Linked DNA regions of Homo sapiens. The main gene of each other region encodes a partner of the protein of the gene in region 2 in a complex. Each region holds a gene or a part of one and is shown on either strand. Other genes may lie near its edges.

Evidence for each region.
Region 1: CIRSR (region 2) and HDAC3 share a complex: the UniProt entries of both Homo sapiens proteins name them as parts of the notch corepressor complex.
Region 3: CIRSR (region 2) and DNTTIP1 share a complex: the UniProt entries of both Homo sapiens proteins name them as parts of the histone deacetylase complex.
Region 4: CIRSR (region 2) and ZNF541 share a complex: the UniProt entries of both Homo sapiens proteins name them as parts of the histone deacetylase complex.

The regions. Positions count from the first base shown.
Region 1 is NC_000005.10:141,620,360-141,626,867, reverse strand, and holds the end of HDAC3 (histone deacetylase 3), read left to right. Parts: intron 1-584; coding exon 585-674; intron 675-796; coding exon 797-855; intron 856-1,103; coding exon 1,104-1,183; intron 1,184-1,502; coding exon 1,503-1,660; coding exon of another isoform or gene 1,661-1,748; exon of another isoform or gene 1,749-2,006; intron 2,007-5,330; coding exon 5,331-5,400; 3' UTR 5,401-5,987; downstream 5,988-6,508. UniProt on the Homo sapiens protein: Histone deacetylase that catalyzes the deacetylation of lysine residues on the N-terminal part of the core histones (H2A, H2B, H3 and H4), and some other non-histone substrates.
Region 2 is NC_000002.12:174,347,518-174,350,747, forward strand, and holds the end of CIRSR (corepressor interacting with RBPJ 1), read right to left. Parts: intron 3,229-3,230; coding exon 3,143-3,228; intron 1,656-3,142; coding exon 980-1,655; 3' UTR 505-979; downstream 1-504. UniProt on the Homo sapiens protein: May modulate splice site selection during alternative splicing of pre-mRNAs. Regulates transcription and acts as corepressor for RBPJ. Recruits RBPJ to the Sin3-histone deacetylase complex (HDAC). Required for RBPJ-mediated repression of transcription.
Region 3 is NC_000020.11:45,794,937-45,801,975, forward strand, and holds part of DNTTIP1 (deoxynucleotidyltransferase terminal-interacting protein 1), read left to right. Parts: intron 1-408; coding exon 409-507; intron 508-6,137; coding exon 6,138-6,206; intron 6,207-6,465; coding exon 6,466-6,522; intron 6,523-7,039. UniProt on the Homo sapiens protein: Increases DNTT terminal deoxynucleotidyltransferase activity (in vitro). Also acts as a transcriptional regulator, binding to the consensus sequence 5'-GNTGCATG-3' following an AT-tract.
Region 4 is NC_000019.10:47,570,136-47,577,135, forward strand, and holds the start of ZNF541 (zinc finger protein 541), read right to left. Parts: upstream 3,014-7,000; 5' UTR 2,948-3,013; intron 2,898-2,947; exon of another isoform or gene 1,908-2,897; 5' UTR 1,761-1,907; intron 1-1,760. UniProt on the Homo sapiens protein: Transcription regulator which is essential for male fertility and for the completion of meiotic prophase in spermatocytes.

The DNA.
Region 1 (6,508 bases), on a different chromosome or scaffold from region 2:
GACTAAGGTGGAGGGGGTGGCAATGGAGAGAAGTAGATGATCTGAGAGGTGTGTGTGTGTGTGTGTGTATATATATATATATACACACACACACACACATATATATGTTTTTTTTTTTCTTTTTTGAGATGGAGTCTTGCTCTGTCACCCAGGCTGGAGTGCAGTGGCACGATCTTGGCTCAGTGCAAGCTCTGCCTCCTGGGTTCAAGCATTTCTCCTGCCTCAGCCTCCTGAGTAGCTGGGACTACTACAAAGGCGTGAGCACCGCGCCGGGCGTGAGTTATATTTTCAAGGCTAGAATTGACAGAACTTGGGTTGATGAGAATAGTTGATTAGCAGGCAGGGTGCCAGGGAGGGTGTTGAGCAGAACAGAGGGGGGACTGTGCTTTATTTTAAAATTTTTATTGAGACACAGCATATAAAGTATACCCAAATCTTAAGGGTATAACATAATGAATTTCACTATCAAGATAAAGATTTAGAACATTTATAGTTTTCTTGTGCTCCTTTCAGGCAATACCTAAAGGTATTTACCTTGTCTTTTGATAACCTCCTCCACATCTTCCTCTGGTTCCTTTTAACAGGGAATGCGTTGAATATGTCAAGAGCTTCAATATCCCTCTACTCGTGCTGGGTGGTGGTGGTTATACTGTCCGAAATGTTGCCCGCTGCTGGTGAGCACTCTCCTGATTTCCTCCCCTGTTGTCCAGTGTGAGCTAGGGTGTCCCTCAGATATGGCCACATGGGTCCTTCAGCCCACTTGGTCAGCCTGCTCCCCTCTGCTGGTTGGTTTCAGGACATATGAGACATCGCTGCTGGTAGAAGAGGCCATTAGTGAGGAGCTTCCCTATAGTGGTAAGGACCACCCCACAACACCCCCATAACAGGAAGGCCATTCTCACCAGATTCCAGAATGACCTGGTTTGAAGGCACATGGGAAATTTTACACTCTCAGAGCTCTGCAGACTAAACCCCTGGGCTCAGAGCAGGGAAGAGATTGGGCAGCTATTATGTAGGTGCTCTGGATGGGAAGGAAAAAGATTGGGAAGTCTTGTTAGCTGCCTTTCTCAGTCTGAGCCATACTTTCTCCTCTCCTCCCCAAGAATACTTCGAGTACTTTGCCCCAGACTTCACACTTCATCCAGATGTCAGCACCCGCATCGAGAATCAGAACTCACGCCAGGTCAGCAGCTCAGAAAAGCTGAGCACAAACTTCTCCTGAAAGGTGGAGCCCAGGAGAGGTCAAAGATGTGGGAAGTAGGAAAAACCAAAGAGAAGGAAGTTCTAAGCCATCACAGTCACTGTTATTGACTAGGAGGCAGTCCAGTTTAAAGTAGAGGCAGTTGGGGTTGGTGGGGAGGGAGAGCTATCAGTTGGGGGACCTGAACTAGAGGTACCACTGAGATGAAAACCAGTATGGTAGGGGTAAAAGGCAGCTAGGAGATTCCATGTCCTGGGAATCTCTGGAAACTGCTCACTCTGTATTCCTCATTTCCAACCAGTATCTGGACCAGATCCGCCAGACAATCTTTGAAAACCTGAAGATGCTGAACCATGCACCTAGTGTCCAGATTCATGACGTGCCTGCAGACCTCCTGACCTATGACAGGACTGATGAGGCTGATGCAGAGGAGAGGGGTCCTGAGGAGAACTATAGCAGGTCTGGGAGCAGGGACTTCAGCCTACTTTCAATAGGCTTGCTGGGGAGGTTTAAAAGGGAAAAAGTAAATGGGAAGGTATTAGTTTAATTGCCTCTGGCTTACCTCCTTTAGTCTGCTACAATTTCCTCACTCTTTTCTTTGTTATTTTTAATGACAAAAGTAACACGTATTTATTGCAAAATTTTAAAACAGCACCAAAATATGGTGTTGGCGTTCACACAATCCCAGACCTATTCCACAGGAGTAACCACTGTTAATAGTTTTTATTGTTTTGGATAGACCTTTTTCTATAGATTGCAAATATACTATTCTGTATGTACATATAAACAAACACATATACACTCATTTACAGTTTGTGTGGTTTTTGGTTTTTCGTAAATACAAATAGGGTCATTCTACGTATGCTGCTTTACATCATATAGCTGTTTTCAGCTAGCTAATATAGATCTGCTTCAGTATTTTATCAGCTGTATAATAATTTACTATGTGGATAGATTATTTTCCATTTTTTTGGTATTACAATAATAATGTGGCAATGAACCCCCTTACATTATACATCTTTGCATTCTTGTTTGAGTGGGTTAGATAGTAGAATGGTTGCTGCTAGGTCAAAGGCTGTGTGCATTAATTTTTTTTTTTTTTTTTTTTTTGAGACAGGGTCTCATTCTGTCACCCAGGCTGGAGTACAGTGGCATGATTATAGCTCACTGCAATCTTGAACTCCTGGGTTCAAGCGATCCTCCTGCCTCAGCCCCTCGAGTAGCTGGAATCATAGGTGTGCACCACGACACCTGGCTAATTTTTTTTTTTTTTTTTTTTTTTTTTTTTTTTTTTGGTAGAGACGGAGTCTTGCCTTGTTGCCCAGGCTGGTCTCAAACTCCTGGGCTCAAATGTCCTCCTGCCCCAGCCTTCCAAAGTGCTGGGATTATAGGCGTGAGCCACTGAGCCTGGCCTAAAATTTTTTATATTTGCTGCCAAATTGCCGTCCAGAAAGTCTGTAGCACCCTATAGTCTTGCCAGCATTTTTCTCAGTCTTTCCAGGTCTTGAGCTGGACAGGTCACTGCCTGCGTAATACTCTCTAAGGCTCTTTGATTTCTTTGCTCTGTTAATTTTTTCGGGTGGGATAATTGCATTGTGGTTATGTTTTTTTTTTTTTTTTAAAAGTCTTTATCTTTCTGAGATACATACAAAATATTTGTAGATGGAATGAATTAGGGGGGAAAAAGGATAGGATGGAATTTTTTTTTAATCCCAAAACTTTGCTGAAAAATGAAAGGGAAAGACAACAGAACCAAGAAGTGCAGAAACAGATGCACTTAATGGGGAACAGATTTCCTTACATGACTGAGGGATAACCACAGCTGGACACTTGTGGGACACGCTGTCTTGCTCCCACGCAGGGTTAGAGGTTTGAGCCGGCTCTGCTGCAGAGCCTGATGGGCTTCTCAGCCCCTTCTAGAATCTGCTTCTGTCTTAGAATTCAGGCCTCCGAATCTCTCCTCTGGACCTGGGCTTTACTGCTCTGACTCTTGGGGATCTCTGCAACTCTCTTCCTCCAAGGATATCCCCCGATCCCTTCTGAGTGAGGAAGTGTCTGAACATCTGGAAGTGTCTGGCTTCAGGGCTTCCAGGACTATTGGAAATTGCTTTTCATTGTCTGGTTTGGTTTGGTAAAACCTGTTTTTAAGTTCTTCCTTTTGGGTTTTTTATCAATAGCTCCAGGCTGGCATCTGGACCTAGTCTCTGCATTATAATAATACCAAGCCCTGTCACAGCCAGCAGAAGCCTCAGGCCTCTTCCTGTTCCTAAGCCCTACCTCTCTGTCAGGCCACCCACTGAGTTTCTGTTCTTCTTTGATGCCTATAGCTCCAGCTTGCATATGACTTGCAGAGTAGAAATAGGAAGAGTTACCACTTTTTGTAGGTTTGCCAAGCACCAGACACTACTAAGTGCTATCTATTACAACATATATATGATCATTCTGTTGCCATCAGACAACTCTGATGGCTCTTATTTTCAGATTAACACGGGAGGAATCTAAGGCTCAGAGAGTCTAAGTAACTTTCTTTCTTTCTTTTTTTTGAGACGGAGTTTCGCTCTTTTTGCCCAGGCTGGAGTGCAATGGCATGATCTCAGCTCACCACAACCTCTGCCTCCCGGGTTCAAGCGATTCTCCTGCCTTAGCCTCCCAAGTAGCTGGATTACAGGCATGAGCCTCCACGCCTGGCTAATTTTTTTTGTATTTTTAGAAGAGATGGGGTTTCTCCATGTTAGTCAGGCTGGTCTCGAACTCCTGACCTCAGGTGATCTGCCTGCCTCGGCCTCCCAAAGTGCTAGGATTACAGGCTACAGGTGTGAGCCACCGCCCCCGGCGAGACTTAAGTAACTTTCTGAAGGTCACATGGCTAGTTAAAGATCAGGGCTGAGATTCAACCTGATTCTCTGACTCCACACCTTTAACCCTGTGCACTTAGAAGTAACTGAGACATTGCTCACCATGCAGATAAGGCCTTTCCTGGCTTAGTGCCTCAGCTTCTCTTTGATGACTTTCTCAATTCTCTGTGTCCCAGAGAATACTTTTTCTTTTCTTTCTTTTTTTTTTTTGAGATGGAGTCTCACTCTGTTGCCAGGCTGGAGTGCAGTGGCTAATCCCGGCTCACTGCAACCTCCGCCTCCCAGGTTCAAGCGATTCTCCTGCCTCAGCCTCCTCAGTAGCTGAGATTACAGGCATGTGCCACCACACCCGGCTAACTTTAGTATTTTTAGTAGAGACGGGGTTTCACCATGTTGGCCAGGATGGTCTTGATCTCTTGACCTTGTGATCCACCTGCCTTGGCCTCCCAAAGTGCTGGGATTACAGGTGTGAGCTACCACGCCCGGCTTTTGAGAATACTTTTTCAAAAAGAAAGAAACCAATATTGAGTACCTGTTGGGCCCTGTTTTGCTTTCACATCCATTCTTTCACTATGGGTTTATAATACCACGTCACTCTTCTTAAAATTAAAACTCTCCTTTACCTTGCACTTAGAAGAAAATCCAAAATTTTGACTGTGGCTTAAAAAGGTCCTGCATGCTAGCCCTTACCTACATCCAGGATCTCATCTCTAACTACTCTCCTCCATGCACAGTGCTCCCGGCTGTCCTGGCCTCCTTGTTCTTACTGGAATACATCAGTCTCTTTCCATTTCATGACCTCTGTAGTTGGTTTTCTTGCAGCTTGGAATGGCCTTCCTGAAGTCTTTGCCTGCTTAGCTCCTCCTCAGACTTTAGGTCTTATGTCCCAATAGTCCTGTCTGAAATTTCACCCTTTTCCTCTCATCACCTTCAGTCCTATCACTTCATTTTATTAATTGTACTCTCCATCATCTGAAATTATTATATTTATTTACTTTGTTAGTTACTAGTCTCATTTATTAGGTAAGCTTTTTGAGGATAGACAACCTTGTCCAGCTTGTTACTCTACTGTATTGCTAAGGTTTATGACAGTGTCTGTATAGAGTAGTTCCTTAATGTTTATTTGATACGTGAATGGGTGAATGAATAGCAGTCTCTACCAACAAGAGGAGGAGTGGTTCTCAACGGGGCCTGAGAAATGGCTTTGGAAAAGGGTGCTGGGAGAAGATTAGAACTTAGAGTGAGATCCTGACCTCTCTCCCCTTGCTTTGCAGGCCAGAGGCACCCAATGAGTTCTATGATGGAGACCATGACAATGACAAGGAAAGCGATGTGGAGATTTAAGAGTGGCTTGGGATGCTGTGTCCCAAGGAATTTCTTTTCACCTCTTGGTTGGGCTGGAGGGAAAAGGAGTGGCTCCTAGAGTCCTGGGGGTCACCCCAGGGCTTTTGCTGACTCTGGGAAAGAGTCTGGAGACCACATTTGGTTCTCGAACCATCTACCTGCTTTTCCTCTCTCTCCCAAGGCCTGACAATGGTACCTATTAGGGATGAGATACAGACAAGGATAGCTATCTGGGACATTATTGGCAGTGGGCCCTGGAGGCCAGTCCCTAGCCCCCCTTGCCCCTTATTTCTTCCCTGCTTCCCTCGAACCCAGAGATTTTTGAGGGATGAACGGGTAGACAAGGACTGAGATTGCCTCTGACTTCCTCCTCCCCTGGGTTCTGACTTCTTCCTCCCCTTGCTTCCAGGGAAGATGAAGAGAGAGAGATTTGGAAGGGGCTCTGGCTCCCTAACACCTGAATCCCAGATGATGGGAAGTATGTTTTCAAGTGTGGGGAGGATATGAAAATGTTCTGTTCTCACTTTTGGCTTTATGTCCATTTTACCACTGTTTTTATCCAATAAACTAAGTCGGTATTTTTTGTACCTTTCGCCTTTCTAGGAATGTTAATTCTTGCTAGTTTCCTATTTATGAAAGGAGAGGGAAATGGGCATGATGATGCATGTAATAAAAGCATAGTTAACATTCATTCAGCACTTATCCTACGTTAGGCCCTGTGTATGTATTCTACATTTATTATTGTAAATATAAGAAGTTAATAGAGGATTTTGGTTAAGAGTTAGACAAACCTGGGCAGATTTGAGAGGAGTAGAAGATGACTTCAGGTTTTTGAATCTGGGTGTTTAGAGTAGTGATGCTAGTTGGTGAAGATACACTGAGATAAAACATGTTAAGTGCTTAGCACAGTGCCTGACAGAAGAAGTTGCCCATTATCTGTCTATGTGAAGAACAATGCTAAATACTGTAGTAGCCACAAACATGAACCTTTCTCTAGAAGAGTTTACATTCCAGTCAGTAGTATGATAAATATTGTAGCAGATACAGACTGATACAAGAAAGAGGACTGATAGATGGGTCACTTCCTCCCCTCCATTCTCTGATTCTG
Region 2 (3,230 bases):
CTCACTGCAACCTCCGCTCCTGGGTTCAAGCAATTCTCCCACCTCAGCCTCCTGAGTAGCTGGGACTACAGGTGCGCACCACCATGCCTGGCTTTTTTTTTTTTTTTTTTTTTTGAGACGGAGTCTCACTCTGTCGCCCATGCTGGAGTGCAGTGGCGTAATCTTGGCTCACTGCAACCTCCACCTCCCAGGTTCAAGCGTTTCTCCTGCCTCAGCCTCCCGAATAGCTAGAACTACACTGCATGCCACCATGCCCAGCTAATTTTTTGTATTTTTAGTAGACACGGGGTTTCACCATGTTGGCTAGGCTGGTCTCGAAACTCCTGACCTCAGGTGATCCGCCCGCCTGGGCCTCCCAAAGTGCTGTGATTACAGGCGTAAAGCCACCGTGCCTGGCCCCGTTGGACTGTTTTAAGTTTGAGGTAATTTGTATACCTGCACAGAAAACTAATATTATCCAAATGTAAACAGCTTATTCTATAGAACAAAACACCTAAAGGGGGCTTAAAAGTCTTAAAGATTTATTAATCCTTAATTTATACTAATGAATTTGAATAATTATTACAATTCACTTCAAGCAAATTCAAATCCTAGAATAACAAATTTGAATTGAAAAAAGTAAATTATACCCATTCAATGTACTGTCATTCTTTTAATGATGTTTCAGAACAAAGAAAATGTCACAGAGTTATATGCGGTTTTTATCTGGTATGGGGAACAAGAAACAGTTACCAACAGAAAATATTTCCACAGCCCCAAAATAGCTTACTTACAAATATTTGCAAAATTCATTCTTATAGTACTCATGTAGTTTTGTACTTGAATTGACAGTCTAGAGATGAAAAATTAAAATTGAGCTTTTTTATTAGAAAGACAACAGTACATAATTTACCCCTTGCTAAAGGTATTCAATAAAAAAGTGGAGATATTTTTATTCCCAGGTAATTGTCACATACAGTCTTTCTTCTCTACTTCTGCTTCATTCTCTTTGTGTCACTTTAGTATGTGTACCTCCTGGGTGCTCTCTGTACATTTTTTCTCCTCTATACAAGTCTGTGCCATGGCTTCTGCTGTCATTTCTTCTGCTTTGCTCTTCACCAGGATTTCGCTGTGCCCGTTTCCTTGTCTCCCTTTGCTTGTAACTACCAGGACTTCTGCTCCGGCTTCTCCGGCTCCTTTCCTCCCTGCCGTGGCTTCTGCTGCTCCCCTCCTTTCTTTCAGAGCCTCTCTTCTCTGGGCTATGTTTATGGGTTCTGGACTTTTTGTCAGAATCAGAATGGCTCCATTTGCTGTCCTCCCTAGAACTCTCGTGTTTTAAGAACCTGGGCTTTTCCTTGGCTTTTTCCCGGTTATGGTGACTGCTAGAAAGTTCTTCATGAAGCTTTCTCTTCTTAGACTTGTCCTTCTCTTCAGAATCACTGTTGTTATGCCCTGAACACTTGTTTTTCTTTCTTTTCTTCCTTTGTATTTTTTTTTCTTTATTGTTACTCTCACTCTCACTACTGCTTTCTGAAGTCTCAGTAGAGGAAGAGGAGGAGGAGGAGGAAGATGAGGAAGAAGAGGACTTATGTTTTTTGTGTTTACTTCTGCTCTTCTGAAACTTTTTCTTTTTTCTATCTTTTTTCTTTTTTTTCTTCTCCAGTCGATCTAATTTCCTGTAATTGGGAAATAAACAGTAACAGACTGTGTGAAAAACAGTTATTTCATCAACTGTAAGTTATGAACAAACAATATATTTTCTTAGAAGTTATTAAAAATAGTATCCATGGCAGAGCGCGCTGGCTCATACCTGTAATCCCAGCACTTTGGGAGGCCACGGCGGGCGGATCACAAGGTCAGGAGTTCGAGACCAGCCTGACCAACATGGTGAAACCCCATCTCTAGTAAAAATACAAAAATTAGCTGGGCATGGTGGCACCTGCCTGTAATCCCAGCTACTCAGGAGGCTGAGGCAGAAGAATCGCTTGAACCCGGGAGGCGGAGGTTGCAGTGAGTCAAAATCATGCCACTGCACTCCAGCTTGGGCAAAAGAGTGAGACTCTGTCTTAAAAAAAAAAAAAAAAAAAAAAAGAACTGGTATCCATATATGAACGCATTGTTTACTAAATGACAACTCATTTTCTTCCTTTAAAATTATTCAAAGCGTGAATACATTAAATTAAAAAATTAAATGCATCAAGCCAATTTTCTGACTATACTTCAATAGTAATGACTACTTTTTTGTTAAATTCTTACTGAGTTGAAATTATATAGCACTCTAAAGGGTCATCCTAAAGAAAGCCTGTGAAAGGTGTGTAACATCAGTTGGAACTACTAAAAAAGCAAATATATAGCTATAATCAGATGAAAAATTAATTTTATGTACTATTTTATAGTATATAAATATTAATCAACGTTATCAAAATTCAAGAGAATATTCTCCAGAAATTCTGAGTAAGAGTACACATTAAACTTCTGAAATATTGGTTTTATAAAATAATATAGTTAATACTTGTTTTCAACAATTGTTTAGTTTTATAAATAGGACAATCCTATTAAAACATTCTGAATTTCTAGAGTACTTCACATTCTTGGAGGAGTAACTTGTTTATATGGTATGTTTGAGTTACTCTGAAAATAAGTCTCTAGGTTCTGTCTAGCCATTCTCAAAACTCTACATACTGAAAGCATCATGAGCTCCCTCTATTGGACCCAGCAGACATTTCTTGGATTCTTTTAATTCAGAGGTAGTCTGTTTAACAAAATTCACGTTTACCTTAAATTTAAGCATTCTTTCTGCATTCTCATAAAATTTTACAAAACATTTTAAAAATGGCCAAAAATGTTTCCTAAGAACAAATTGTGTGCGAAGATACACACAAATCTATTTTGAAAAGTAAAAGCTATAAATAAGTCTAATTCTAAATTAAACATTCTGAAAAGTGCAATCGTTTTGTGGTACAATCTGAGTATACAATCTTACACTCATTTCCATGTTACTGAAAAGACAGACAAAATTGTATTAGCTATGGGTGAAGAATAATCAATAAATGTGATGCATGGTATAAGGACCTTCATGAGCTCTTAGGATCAGAGTTGAATACGATACTGAGATGAATACTAAGGAAAAAATAAATCTATTAAATATATACTTCTAAATTACCTGAGAAGTTTCTGTTTTTGTTTGGTTGTTAGTGACTTTAAAAATTCAACTTCTGGATCTTCTTCACCCTCACTTGCAACATACTCCT
Region 3 (7,039 bases), on a different chromosome or scaffold from region 2:
TACAGGCATCCGCCACCACGCCCAGCTAATTTTTTGTATTTTTAGTAGAGACGGGGTTTCACCGTGTTAGCCAGGATGGTCTCGATCTCCTGACCTCGTGATCCGCCCACCTCGGCCTCGCAAAGTGCTGGGATTACAGGTGTGAGCCACCGCGCCCGTCCTGATTTTTTGCACTATTTACACCTCAATCTGTTGGGCACCCCCACGATTATATCCGTAAGAGGGGGAATAAAGGGAGGAGGTCAAGCCTGAAATGTGAATCTAAATCTGGCTGATCCCAAAGCCCTGCTCATAATCACTTTTCCCTTCTGTATGAAGCTAGGATAAAGACTTATTTTATATTCAGTTTCCTTCAGGTTGATGCACATTAACAGGACTCTGACCTTGTCCTCTGTTGTGCTCCCCTAGTTCTTCCAGAAGGCAGCACTGAACGTGCGAGACAATGTTGGGGAGGAGGTGGACGCAGAGCAGCTGATCCAGGAAGCCTGTCGGAGCTGCCTGGAGCAGGTGAGACCAAAGGGGACAAGAGATGCAGGCACAAGGTTTAGCTCTCGAGCCTCTGATAAGAAATGCGATCTTAAGCCGGACGTGGTGGCTCACACATGTAATCCCAGCACTGTGGGAGGCCAAGGTGGGCAGATCACTCAAGGCCAGGAGTTTGAGACCAGCTTGGGCAACGTGGCTAAACCCCATCTCTACAAACAATACGAAAATTAGCTGGGCATGGTGGTGCACGCCTATAATCCTAGCTGCTTGGGAGCCATAGGCACGAGAATCGCTTGAACCTGGGAGACAGAGGTTGCGGTGAGCCGAGATGGCACCACTACACTCCAGCCTGGGTGAAAGAGCAAGATTCTGTCTCAAAAACAAACAAAAAAAGAAATGTGATCTTGTCATCAGTGGTATTTTGGGGAATGCCCAGCAAGCCACATATTGAGATAGGCTTGAGGCTGTTGCTGACAGGGAAAGGAAGGGAAGTAGCTACTATATGTCAGGTACCAGGATAAATGCATTATTTTTTTTTATGTCTCAGAAGAAACTATGTACAGAAGATATCTTTTAATTACTATTTTATAGATGAAGAAATTGTGACTTAGCAAACTCATAGAAGCAGAGAGTAGAATGGCAGTAGCTGGAGGGGAGAAGTGGGGGGATGTTAATCAAAGGGTACAAACTTTTAGTTATAAGATGAACAAGTTCTGGGCAATCTGATGTACAGCATGATGACTATAGTTTATCTCTATTGTTTACTTGAAATTTGCTAAGACCATAGATCTTAAGTGTCCACACACAAAATGGTAGTGGTGGATGTGTTGATTGATTTCATTGTGGTAATCATTTCACTATGTATATCTATGTCAATTCATCACATTGTACACCTTGAATATATACCATTTCTGTTTATCAATTATACATCAATAGAGCTAGAAAAAAATTTTTAAAAGCAAAGCAAAAAAAAAAAAAGAAATGGCTTAAGACACATAATAATTAGAATAGCTAAGATCTGTCTCACCCCTGCAGGTGCGTGGTGGATCAAGTTATCATGGCCCCATTTGGTATCATGGGGATGAGCACCCTGCTGCCTCCCTGCCTCTCTGGTGTGGTCAGGAAGCATGACATCAGGTCTATAAATGACTGTTCCCAAGATAGTAGAGAACCTGTTTACATGTGTCAGCTGCTGTTATTAGGAGGAATTGTTGCCATCACCATTTTATAGGGAGACATCAGGAAAGGTCGCCAATAGTCGCTGGCTCACTTTCTCACCTCCTATTCATTCTCTTCACTTTGTTTTCGCTTCAGTCCCCACTACTTCACTGGAACCCCTCTTGTCGGGGTCGCTAGTAACTTCCGTGTTGTCAAACCCTCTGGTCCCTAACTGTCCTCAACTTACTCAGCTTCTCAGTGACATCTGTCACAATGGATCATTTCGCGTTTCTTGGAATGCTCCTCTGTTGGCTAGAGTGCCTTGACTTTGCTCCAACCTCATTGCCTACTCTTCTCTCTCACCCCCCGCCTCTAACTGTTGGTGCCTTCCCAAGTTCAGTCCTCAAACCCCTTCTCTTTCATGGCTCACTGTTTTCATAGGTGTTTTCATCTAGTCCTGTGGCTTGGAAGCCAATTCAGCCGCTCATAATTCACACATTTATATCTCAGTCCAGAGTTACATTCACCGTTACCCAGTTCCAATCCACTCTTCTCACAGCAGCCAGACTGATCTCCGTAAAGATGAATTAGATCATGTCACTCCCCATTTTAAAAACCCTTCAGTGACTTTCCTGTTGCAGGGAGAATAAAGTCTTAATGCCTTACCATGATCCTGCTGGGAAAACTGGCTAGCCATATGTAGAAAGCCGAAACTGGATCCCTTCCTTACACCTTATACAAAAATTAATTCAAGATGGATTAAAGACTTAAATGTTAGACCTAAAACCATAAAAACCCTAGAAGAAAACCTAGGCAATACCATTCAGGACATAGGCATGGGCAAGGACTTCATGACTAAAACACCAAAAGGAATGGCAACAAAAGCCAAAATTGACAAATGGGATCTAATTAAACTAAAGAGCTTCTGCACAGCAAAAGAAATGACCATCAGAGTGAACAGGCAACCTACAGAATGGGAGAAAATTTTTGCAATCTACTCATCTGACAAAGGGCTAATACCCAGAATCTACAATGAACTCTAACAAATTTACAAGAAAAAAACAAGCAACCCCATCAACAAGTGGCCAAAGGACATGAACAGACACTCCTCAAAAGAAGACATTTATGCAGCCAAAAGACACATGAAAAAATGCTCATCATCACTGGCCATCAGAGAAATGCAAATCAAAACCACAATGAGATACCATCTTACACCAGTTAGAATGGTGATCATTAAAAAGTCAGGAAACAACAGGTGCTGGAGAGGATGTGGAGAAATAGGAACACTTTTACACTGTTGGTGGGACCGTAAACTAGTTCAACCATTGTGGAAGTCAGTGTGGCGATTCCTCAGGGATCTAGAACTAGAAATACCATTTGACCCAGCCATCCCATTACTGGGTATATACCCAAAGGAATATAAATCATGCTGCTATAAAGACACATGCACACATATGTTTATTGTGGCACTATTCACAATAGCAAAGACTTGGAACCAACCCAAATGTCCAACAATGATAGACTGGATTAAGAAAATGTGGCACATATATACCATGGAATACTATGCAGCCATAAAAAGTGATGAGTTCATGTCCTTTTTAGGGACATGGATGAAGCTGGAAACCATCATTCTCAGCAAACTATCACAAGGACAAAAAACCAAACACCGCATGTTCTCACTCATGGGTGGGAATTGAACAATGAGAACACATGGACACAGGAAAGGGAACATCAGACACCGGGGCCTGTCGTGGGGTTGGGGGAGGGGGGAGGGATAGCATTAGGAGATATACCTAATGTTAAATGACGAGTTACTGGGTGCAGCACACCAACAAGGCACATGTATACATATGTAACAAACCTGCATGTTGTGCACATGTACCCTAAAACTTAAAGTATAATTTAAAAAAAAATGCCTTACCATGACCCACAGAGCCTACCCTCGACTGGCTTCTGCCTGCTTCTTTAACTTCATTTCATCTCACCTCTTTTTTATTGACTATACTCTGGCTGTTCTGAACTCCTTTCTGCTCCTCCAGCACAAGCTTAGGCCATTTCACTTGCTGTTCTTAGTACCTGGGGTACTCTACCCTTAACTCTATAAAGCCGGCTCCTTCTTTTCTTCAGATCTTAGTTTAAATATCAGAGAGGTCTTCCCCTCGCACTCCTACCTCTGCTAAAATCTTGAGCTTTACAAGAGTTGAGGCCTAATCTTGTTCACCACTGTATTCCCAGCCCTGGAATATGACTCTTAGTATGTGTACAGAGTTTGCTGAATTATTGAGTAAATGAAGGAACAAACAAATGATAAATGAACAAACAAGCTTCCTGCTCTAATAGAACTTAACAGCCTACTTAAGCAGACAGGTGTGAATTAGATTACCAACAAATGTGTGCATAATTACACATTGAGACTTGATCACCCTTCACTGGAAAGGGACAAAGTTTGGAGGAGAAGAGCATGAATCCAATTATGGATTAGCAGCTTTGAGCCATCCAAGCATAGACATGGGGCAGACTATTTGGTATATAAGTCTAGAGCTCAGAGGATAACCTTTTGTCTACAGTTGAATTATGGAATCGTGGTTTATAGATGTTAATTGAAGCTGTGAGAATAGGTGAGAGCAGATAGAATATGTAATGAGAGAGGATAGGGAAAAGAACCAGATTGAGAAGGAAAAGCCAGCAAAGAAGGCTAAGAAAGAACGGCCAGAGAAGTAGAAGGAACACAGGAAGTGTGGCCACAGGAGCCTGTAGAAAAGAGTGTTTCCAGAAGGGGGAGCCCTCAGCACTGTCAAATGCCACTGGCAGAGGTCGGGTGAACCCAATTCTCCACCTGCTGCACCATCTCCCCTCTGCCCATTCCATCCTTTTCTTTGTCAAATGAGCCAGGTGTTCCCACCTTTGAGCTTCTGCACTCCTCCCTGCTGCTGAAACACTTCTGCCCAGCTTTTTTTACAGCCTCCTTCACATCTCAACTCAGAGGCCACCTTCTGAGCAAGGCCTTCCCTGGCCATTCCCGCAAAGTAGCCCTTCCCCTCTGGTGGTTCTCTGTCACATCTGCCTGGGTTTTTTTCTTTTTTTCTCACAGCATCTATCATGATCCACAGTTACCTTGTTTGTTTCTGTGCTTATTATCCAGATCACCCACAAACTATAAGCTCCACAAGAGCTTGTCCTAGTTACTGCTGTGTCCACAGCACTTAGGTCCCAGGTACTCAGTATTTATTAAAAGAAAAACAGCAGGCCAGGCGCACTGGCTCACGCCTGTAATCCCAACACTTTGGGAGGCTGAGGCGGGCAGATCACGAGGTCAGAAGTGTGAGACTAGCCTAGCCAACGTGATAAAACCCCATCTCTACTAAAAATACCAAAAAAAAAAAAAAAAAAAATTAGCTGGGTGTGGTTGCACGCCTGTAATCCCAGCTACTCAGGAGGCAGAGGCAGGAGAATTGCTTGAACCTGGGAGGCGGAGATTGCAGACAGCCGAGATCGCACCACTGTACTCCAGTCTGGGCAACAGAGCAAGATTCCATGTCAAAAAAAAAAAGAAAAAAGAAAAACAGCAGCTTACTGAGGAGTATGTGTTATACTAATGTATTTAGTTTGAAAAAACATACAGTATGTATTTACATGGGAAAAGCAAGGAAGAATTTACATTGAAACATTAATAGTAGTTTATGTAATGAGATTCCAGGTTTTTCTTATTTTGCTTTTTTACATTTTTTAATTTTTCCAGCCATGATCATTAATTCAAGTTTTTTTAAAAATAGATATCTATTTCTATGCATATAAATATATATATGTGTGTGGCTGGGCGTGGTGGCTCATGCCTGTAATCGCAGCACTTTGGGAGGCCAAGGCAGGTGGATCACCTGAGGTTAAGAGTTCGAGACCAGCCTGGCCAACATGGTGAAACCCCGTTTCTAATAAAAATACAAAAATTAGCTGGGCATGGTGGTGGGCACCTGTAATCTCAGCTGCCTGGGAGGCTGAGGCAGGAGAATCGCTTGAACCCAGGAGGCGGAGGTTGCAGTGAGCTGAGATAGCACCACTGCACTCCAGCCTGGGCGACAAGAGTGAAACTCCATCTCAATTTAAAAAAAAAAAAAAAATATATATATATATATATATATATATATATATATATATATATATATATATATATATATATATTTGGAAGTGGGCCGATCACTTGAGGTCAGGAGTTCAAGACCAGCCTGTCCAACATGGTGAAATCCCGTCTCTTCCAAAAATACAAAAATTAGCTGGGTATGGTGGCGCACCCCTGTAGTCCCAGCTACTTTGGAGGCTGAGGCATGAGAATCACTTGAACCCAGGAGATGGAGGTTGCAGAGAGCCAAGATGGTGCTGCTGCACTCCAGCCTGAGCAACAGAGCAAGACTCTGTCTCCAAAAAAAAAAAAGGAAGTAGGTAGGGTGTGCTTACCCACCAAAATAGTGACTGGTAACACTTGGTCTTTTTCCCTTCAGGCTAAACTGCTCTTTTCAGATGGAGAAAAAGTAATACCCAGATTGACCCATGAGCTTCCAGGAATAAAGGTCAGAGTCACTGTGTTCTCGGGTATTGGAGCGGGAGGTCCTTCAGGCTGGGAGGCAAGTGAAATATGTGGGCCCAGGGAGGTTCCATGTACTTCCATTTGTAGGACCAGGCCCACACAGCATCATGCTGGATGGGCTTCTTTGGCCTGGGTCAGAGCGGGGCTGGAGAGCTGTAGTCCAGGGCTGTCTTCTGCAACTCCAGAAGACCTGCAGCTCCCAGGCACTGGCCTTCCACTGACTCCCTTCCCTTTTCTTTTAGCGTGGCCGTCAGGCAGAAGAAGAATGTGCCCATCGAGGAAGCCCCCTTCCTAAAAAGGTAAACCATTTCCTTGTTTTGTTTTCTGGCTGAAAAAAGGCTTGTCAGGCCGGGTGTGGTGGCTCACACCTGTAATCCCAACACTTTGGGAGGCCAAGCGGGGAGGATCACTTGAGCTCAGGAGTTTTGAGACCAGTCTGGGTAACATAGTGAGACCCTGTCTCTAAAATAAAAAAAAAATTAGCCAGGCATGCTGGCACATTTCTGTCGTCCTAGCTACATGAGAGGCTGCAGTGGGAGGATCACCTGAGCCCAGGAGTTCAAGGCTGTAGTGAGCTATGATCATGCCACTGCACTCCAGGCTGAGTAACAGAGTAAGACCCTGTCTCTCAAAAAAGGCTCTTCACTCCGCAAGGTACTGGGCTTCCTCAAAGCCCTTTTGAGCCTTCCTAGACATGAGAGGCAGTTTTTCTCCCTGTCCCTGTCAAACATCATTTGATCTCTTTGGAAAACCATCTCTGCCAAGTGACCCTGGACCTGCCAATGGGGTATGGGGAGTAACCACAGGGTCAGACCT
Region 4 (7,000 bases), on a different chromosome or scaffold from region 2:
TGGTAGCGGGTGCCTGTTGTCCCAGCTACTCGGGAGGCTGAGGCAGGAGAATGGTGTGAACCCAGGAGGTAGAGCTTGCAGCAAGCCGAGATCACTCCACTGCACTCCAGCCTGGGCGACAGAGCGAGACTCCATCTCCAAAAAAAAAAAAGTCCATTTTGGCTGGGCGTGGTGGTTCATGCCTGTAATCCCAGCACTTTGGGAGGCTGACGCAGGCAGATCACTGGAGGCCAGGAGTTTGAGACCGCCTTGCCAACATGGTGAAAACCCGTCTCTACTAAAAATACAAAAATTAGCCGGGCATGGTGGTGGGCACCTGTAATCCCAGGTACTCAGGAGGCTGAGGCATGAGAATCACTTGAACCTGGGAGGTAGAGTTTGCAGTGAGCTGAGATAGTGCCAATGCACTCCAGTCTGGGCGACAGAGCAAGACTCTGTCCTAAAAAAAAAAAAAAAAAAAAAAAAGCGCATTTTGTTTTTTTGTTTATATATAATGGGTTTATTACTGCCCTTTTAAAATCAATTAATAAACATTTTGAAAGTTGATTAGTTTAAACTTCTAATACAGCAAATGCCAGTAGATAAAGTTTACATAAACAAAAATTCTCTACAGCCTTCAATAATTTTTAAGTGCAAAGGGGTCTTAAGAGCAAAAGTTTTAAATTAGCTGGGCGTGGTGGTGCACGCCTGCAGTCCCAGCTACTTGGGAGGCTGAGGCAGGAGAATTGCTTGAACCCAGGAGGCAGAGGTTGCAGTGAGCCGAGATCGCACCACTGCACTCCAGCCTGGGAAACAGAGAGAGACTCCATCTCAAAAAGAAAAAAAAAAAAAAAGTTTGAGAACTACTATTCCAATAAGAAAAAGTCCTGCATGTCCACATACACATGTGCCCAAGCAGACACGCATCTAAAAGAAAGAAACCCGAAACTGAAAATTCCAAAGTGGTGGCCGGCAGGCATATTTTATAAGTTCCCTATGCTGTCTTTTTTTTTTTTGAGACGGAGTCTCGCTCTGTTGCCCAGGTTGGAGTGCAGTGGTGCAATCTCGGCTCACCACAACCTCCGCCTCCCAGGTTCAAGCGATTCTCATGCTTCAGCCTTCCCAGTAGCTGGGACTACAGGCGCCTGCCACCACATCCAACTAATTTTTTGTATTTTTAGTAGAGACAGGGTTTTACTATATTGGCCAGGCTGGTCTCAAACTCCTCAGCCGCCTCGGCCTCCCAAAGTGCTGGGATTACAGGCATGAGCCACTGCGCCCAGCCTACGCTGTCTTATTTAATTCTTAAATTATCAAATGTGTTGCTAGCATTTAAAAATCAGAAGGTTTCACCTAAGGATAGTTTTCTGGCCTCTTCTCAAAGAAATCGAAAGTTCTGGCAACACTGGCCTGGCATTTCCACTGCCTGGCATCACTTAGATGGGACATACAATCTTTGCTTCACGACAATCCTTACTTCTTCCCTTTACCTGTGCCTTACCTGTAAGTATCTGAGTTGCCACCCTGAGCTAGGGAAGGAAAAACGTTTTTTGCAATAAACATCAATAAAGAAACACACATCAATCTATGTCTGCACTCCTCCTAACAGGTCAACATGCACAATAAATAGCCCTTTTCCCTGTTTGACTTCTCCAAAGCAGTAACTTGTATGATTACCATTAGTACGGACTTTGGTATTGCTTAGAAACCCTCTTGAGAAAGAACGAGATCTATCCAACAAAGCAGGTGTCTTTGGCTCAGTGCAAAGGAAGGAAACTCACCAGAAGAGCAAGTTAGTGAATCTCCAGGGAACAGGAGGACCCAGTTTAGGCCCCACAGGGAGGGGGTTCAGGTGACAAGCAGACCACTGGATATGTCCTCCTGGAACACTGAGTGGTAAATGCAGGATACTCCCAATTTCTTTTGCCCTGAAAGCAGGTGGTGGGAAGGAAGAAGCAGTCAGGACTTGGGTCCCAAAGAAACAAGAACAGAGATGTGAAAATGGAGAAGAGCAACAATTTTTGGAAGAAGGCAGAAAGCAGTATCAACAGCGGAGATTTGAGTGAGGAGGAAAGGTTTTTTTGGTAAGAAGAAATAATTGTTCCTTCTTTCCTTATTTTTCCCCCGTGGGAAGAGACCTAGAGAATTTTACCGGGAGAAACTTAATTAGGGCAGAATTGGTGATAAAATAAGGATATTTGCTGGAAAGTTGGGGGTAGGTGAGGAGGACTGGAAACATAAATATTAGACGAGAGAGAAACTGGAAGGAATTAGTTGGTTTGTTCTAAGCGAAGATATTCCAAAAAGGGGCACTCTAGGTGTGAAGAAAAAAATTTTGCTGGAAAGTGATCCTGAACGGATGAAAAAAAACTGGGTTAATTTTTTTTCTTTTTTTGCGCTAAGGGAAGTTACTTAAAGGAGGGGGAGGGGCATGTCAAGGAAAGGAGGAGAGATTTGGAGTTTTGCTGGAAGATCCTAAAAAGGGATAAATCTGGGTGCCCCAAAGTGGGACTATGGAGGAGGAAGGGGGATTCTGAGCAGAAGGGGCCTGGAAGAGGCTAGCGAATGCAAGGCCCAGATGCAGAAGGTGGGGAGGTCGGGTAGGGCCCGCGGCGCGAGCTGGGGGGCTGCGAGGGGGCAGTTGAGGCCCGGGGGGACGGAGTGGGAAAGAAAAGGGGGTGCAGCGGGCCAGGGGATCCTGAGGAGGGTCTTCTCCAAGGGGGAAGGGCCTGTGGGGTGCAGCGGGGCCCGGAGCTGTTGGGTTGCAGAAGATGCGTGCGTGACGCAGGGTGAGGGGCGCCCGCCGCGCCTGCTGCGCCCCTCGAAAGGCAGATGGGGCCCCCTAAAAAAAGAAATCAAGAAACGAATGAGATTGTAAAAAGGGGGAGGGGTTGAAAAAAGAGGAAATAATAGTAATGGGGGATAAGGAGGAAAGGGAGGGGCAGGGGCAGCAGCAACCGGGTTTTACCCGCCCCCGGGGGCTCGCGCGCCGGGCCTCGCGCCTGGCGCCTCGCGGGGCTCCCAGCGGCCTCCCGCCTTCCCCGCGCCGCCCGGGGCGCACGCGCAGCCCGGCCCACCCCCGGATCTCCTCGCTCACGCGCGGCGCAGGCGCGCGTACGTGACCGCGGGCCGCCTCACGCCTCCCAGAGCGGCCTCGCGCGTGCCTCCTGGCCGCGCGCTCTCGGCTGCTTCTCCGAGGGGCGGGGCTTGCCGCGGGCGGGAAAGGAGGCGGTTGGTCGCCATTTTGGGAGGGGGCGGTTGAGGGCGGAGAGTGAGAAGAGTGAGCCGGGGAGGAGCGGCGGGGGGAGGGGCCAGTCCCCCAAGACCCGCATCCCGAGGCCGAGAGTCCCGGGAGCCTCCACTCCAGCCATTGTTCCTGGTGGGCGGTGTTAGAACGCGGTGGCGGCCGCTGGATGGCTGCCCCCAGTCCCCGGAGGGGCCTCTGAGCAGCGTCCTGGTGCTGGGAGGCCGTATCGTCTGTTTCCGAGGACCCTGTCGCGAGCGCGGGAGTCTCTCAGGGTCTCTTCTGCGTCATTGGGTGGGGGAGATGTGGGGCGAGCTGCTCCTCCCTTTTTTTAAAATTTTTTTCAGAGACAGGGTCTCTCCCTGTTCCCCAGGCTGCGATCACGGCTGCCGCACCCTCCCCTTCCTGGGCTCAGGCGATCCTCCTGCCTCAGTCTCTTGAGTAGCAGCGACCACAGGCGGGCGCCGCCACACCTTGCTAATTTTTACATTTTTTTTAGAGATAAGGTCTCGCCATGTTGCCCAGGCTAGCCTGGTTCCCCTGGGCTCAAGCGATCCTCCTGCCTCAGTCTCCCAAAGCATTGGGATTATAGGTGAGAGCCACCGCGCCCAGCCTATTCCTCCCTTCTTTGGGGAAAGGCTGAGCCATCTGGGGCCCCTGCTCCGTGCTGAGCTGTGTTGGGAAGGGCGGTAGGCCCTGGTGCCGACTGGCCAAGGACCATCTTTTTTTTCTTTTTTTTTTTTTTTGAGACAGGGTCTTGTTCTGCCGCCCAGGCTGGAGTTCAGTGGTGCGATCTCGGCTCACTGCAATCTCCGCCTCCCGGGTTAAAGCGATTCTCCTGTCTCAGCCTCCCGAGTAGCTGGGATTACAGGCACGTGCCACCACGCCCGGCTAATTTGTTGTATTTTCAGTAGAGACGGGGTTTCACCATGTTGGCCAGGCTGGTCTTAAATTCCTGACCTCGGGTGATCAGGTGATCCGCCTGCTTCTGCCTCCCAAAGTGCTGGGATTACAGACCTGAGCCACCGTGCCCGACCTGGCCAAGGGGTTTGAACTGTCCTGCAACTGAGGCAGATAATTCATTCCTTAGAAACGGAGTGCTGAAGATCTGTGGAGAATGAGAGCAGATTAGTGGTTGCCCGGGGTGGAAAGGGGCATCGCGGATCTTATCTGGGTAATGGAAATATTCTAAAACTGAGCTATGGGCCAGGCGTGGTGGCTCACGCCTGTAATCCCAGCTCTTTGGGAGGCCAAGGTAGGAGGATCCCTTGAGCCTAGGAGTTTGAGACCAACCTGGGCAACCTAGTGAAACCCTGTCTCTAAAAAAAAAAAAAAAAAAAAATTAACTGGAGATGGTGGCATGCGCCTGTAGTCCCAGCTACTTGGGAGGCTGAGGCAGGAGGATCGCTTGAGCCTGGGAGTCCAAGGCTGCAGTGAGCTATATGATCAGGCCATTGCACCCCAGACTGGGGGATAGAGCGAGACTCTGATGGGGGAAAAAAAGGGTTATGGTGATGGTTGCACAACTCAGTAAATTTCTAAAAATCAGTAAGTATACACTTAAGTGAGTGACTTTTATGTAAATTATACCTCAAAGTTTTTTTTTTTTTTAATTGATTATTGGGGGAGGAAACAGAGGAAAGAAGAGGGCCTGTCATCTTGCTTTAGGATCCCTTCATTTAGCAAGTTTTTATTGGGTCTCTGTTCTAGGTGCTCAGATATAGTGTCTGGGTCAAACAGACATTCCTCTCCTCCTGGAACTTATGTTTTAGAGCAGTGCTGTTCAGTAGTAATAAAATGCAAACTTCAAGCACCAGCCACTTATGTAATTTTACATTTTCTAGTAGCCATGTTTAAAAGGAACAAAATGTAAAGAAGGCAGGTGTGGCGGCTGGCACTTGTAGCCCAGCTACTTGTGAGGCTGAGACAGGAGGATCACTTGAACCCAAGAGTTGGAGACTGCAGTGAGCTATGGCCCTGTCTGTGTAGAGCCACTGCACCAGCCTGGGCAACATAGTGGGACCCATTCTCTTAAAAAAAAAAAAAAATGGCTTGGGACGGGTGTGGTGGTTCACACCTGTAATCTCAACACTTTGAGAGGCTGAGGCAGGAGGATTGCTTGAGTTCAGGAGGTCAAGACCAGCCTGGGCAACACACCCAAACCTAAAAATCAAATAAATAAAAGTAAATAATAAAATAAAAGAGAAAGAAACACAAGTGAAATTAATTTGGTAATATTTAATCCCAAATATTTCAACACATTATCAGTATAAAAACTAAGAGATAATTTACACTTTTGGGGCTGTCTTTAAAACCCCACATATACAGTATTTTACATTCACGGGACATCTCAATTCAGACCAGCCACATTTCCAGGGCTCCATGGAACCTTGTAGCGAGTGGCTCTGGTACTGACAGCATACCTCTACAGGGGGACAAGCAAATGCATTTACTTTTTTTGTTGTATTTTTTTGATACAGGGTCTCACTATGTCACCTAGGCTGAAGTGCATTGTTGTAATCATGCCTCGCTGCATCCTTGACTTCCTGGGCCCAAGCTATTATACCACCTCAGCCTCCTGAGTAGCTGGTACTACAGGCCTGCACCACCACACCCAGCTAATTTTTTGTATTTTTAGTAGAGACAGGGTTTTGCCATGTTGGCCAGGCTGGTTTTGAACTCCTAGGCTCAAGCAGTCTTCCTGCCTTGGCCTCCCAACATGCTGGGATTACAGGAGTGAGCCACCGTGCCTGGCTGCAAATACATTTATAATGCAGTATGTTATACCTTGAAGAAAAACAAAGGAAAGAGGATGGGGTCAGAGGGTATTGTTTTATACAGGTCAGTAAAGGCTTCTCTGGTGAGATTGCATTGAGCAGAGATCTGAAGGAAGTAAGGAAGGGTCCTATGAAAATATCTGGGGGAAGAAGAGAGGGAACAGCACGTGCACAGGCACTGAGGCAGGAAGATGTGGAACCCTTTTGAAAGACAGCAGAGAGGCCAGGCATGGTGGCTTATGCTTGTAATCCCAGCAATTTGGGGGGCCCAGGTAGGCTGATCACTTGAGCCCAGGAGTTCGAGACCAGCCTGGCCAACATGTTGAAACCCCATCTCTACTAAAAATACAAAAAATTATCTGGGCATGGTGGTGCACACCTGTAGTCCCAGCTACTCGGGAGGCTGAGGCATGAGAATCTCTTGAACCTGGGAGGCAGCGGTTGCAGTGAGCCGAGATCACGCCATTGTGCTCCATCCTTGGTAACAGAGTGAGACTCTGTCTCAAAAAAAAAAAAAAAATCAGAAGAAGAGAGACCAGTGTGGCCAGAACCACGTGAGTGAAGAAACTAGGGGCAGATGGCATAGGGACTTACAGGTCATGCTAAGGCAGGAATTAAACTCCTGGAAACAATTTCAGAGGGTTCTTCCTTTATTTAGCACACTTTTTGTTTTGTGGGGTTTTTTGTTTGTTTCTTTTATTTTCTTTCTTTTTTTCTTTTTTCTTTTTCTTCTTTTTTTTCTTTTGAGACAGAGTCGCGCTCTGTAACCCAGGCTGGAGTGCAGTGGCACCATCTCGGCTCAATGCAACCTCTGTCTCCTGGGTTCAAGTGATTCTCCTGCCTCAGCCTTCTAAGTACCTGGGATTACAGGCTCGTGCCACCACGCCCAGCTAATTTTTTGTATTTTTAGTAGAGACGGGGTTCCACCATGTTAGCCAGGATGGTCTCCATCTCCTGACCTCGTGATCCACCCGCCTCAGCTCCCAAAGTGCTAGGATTA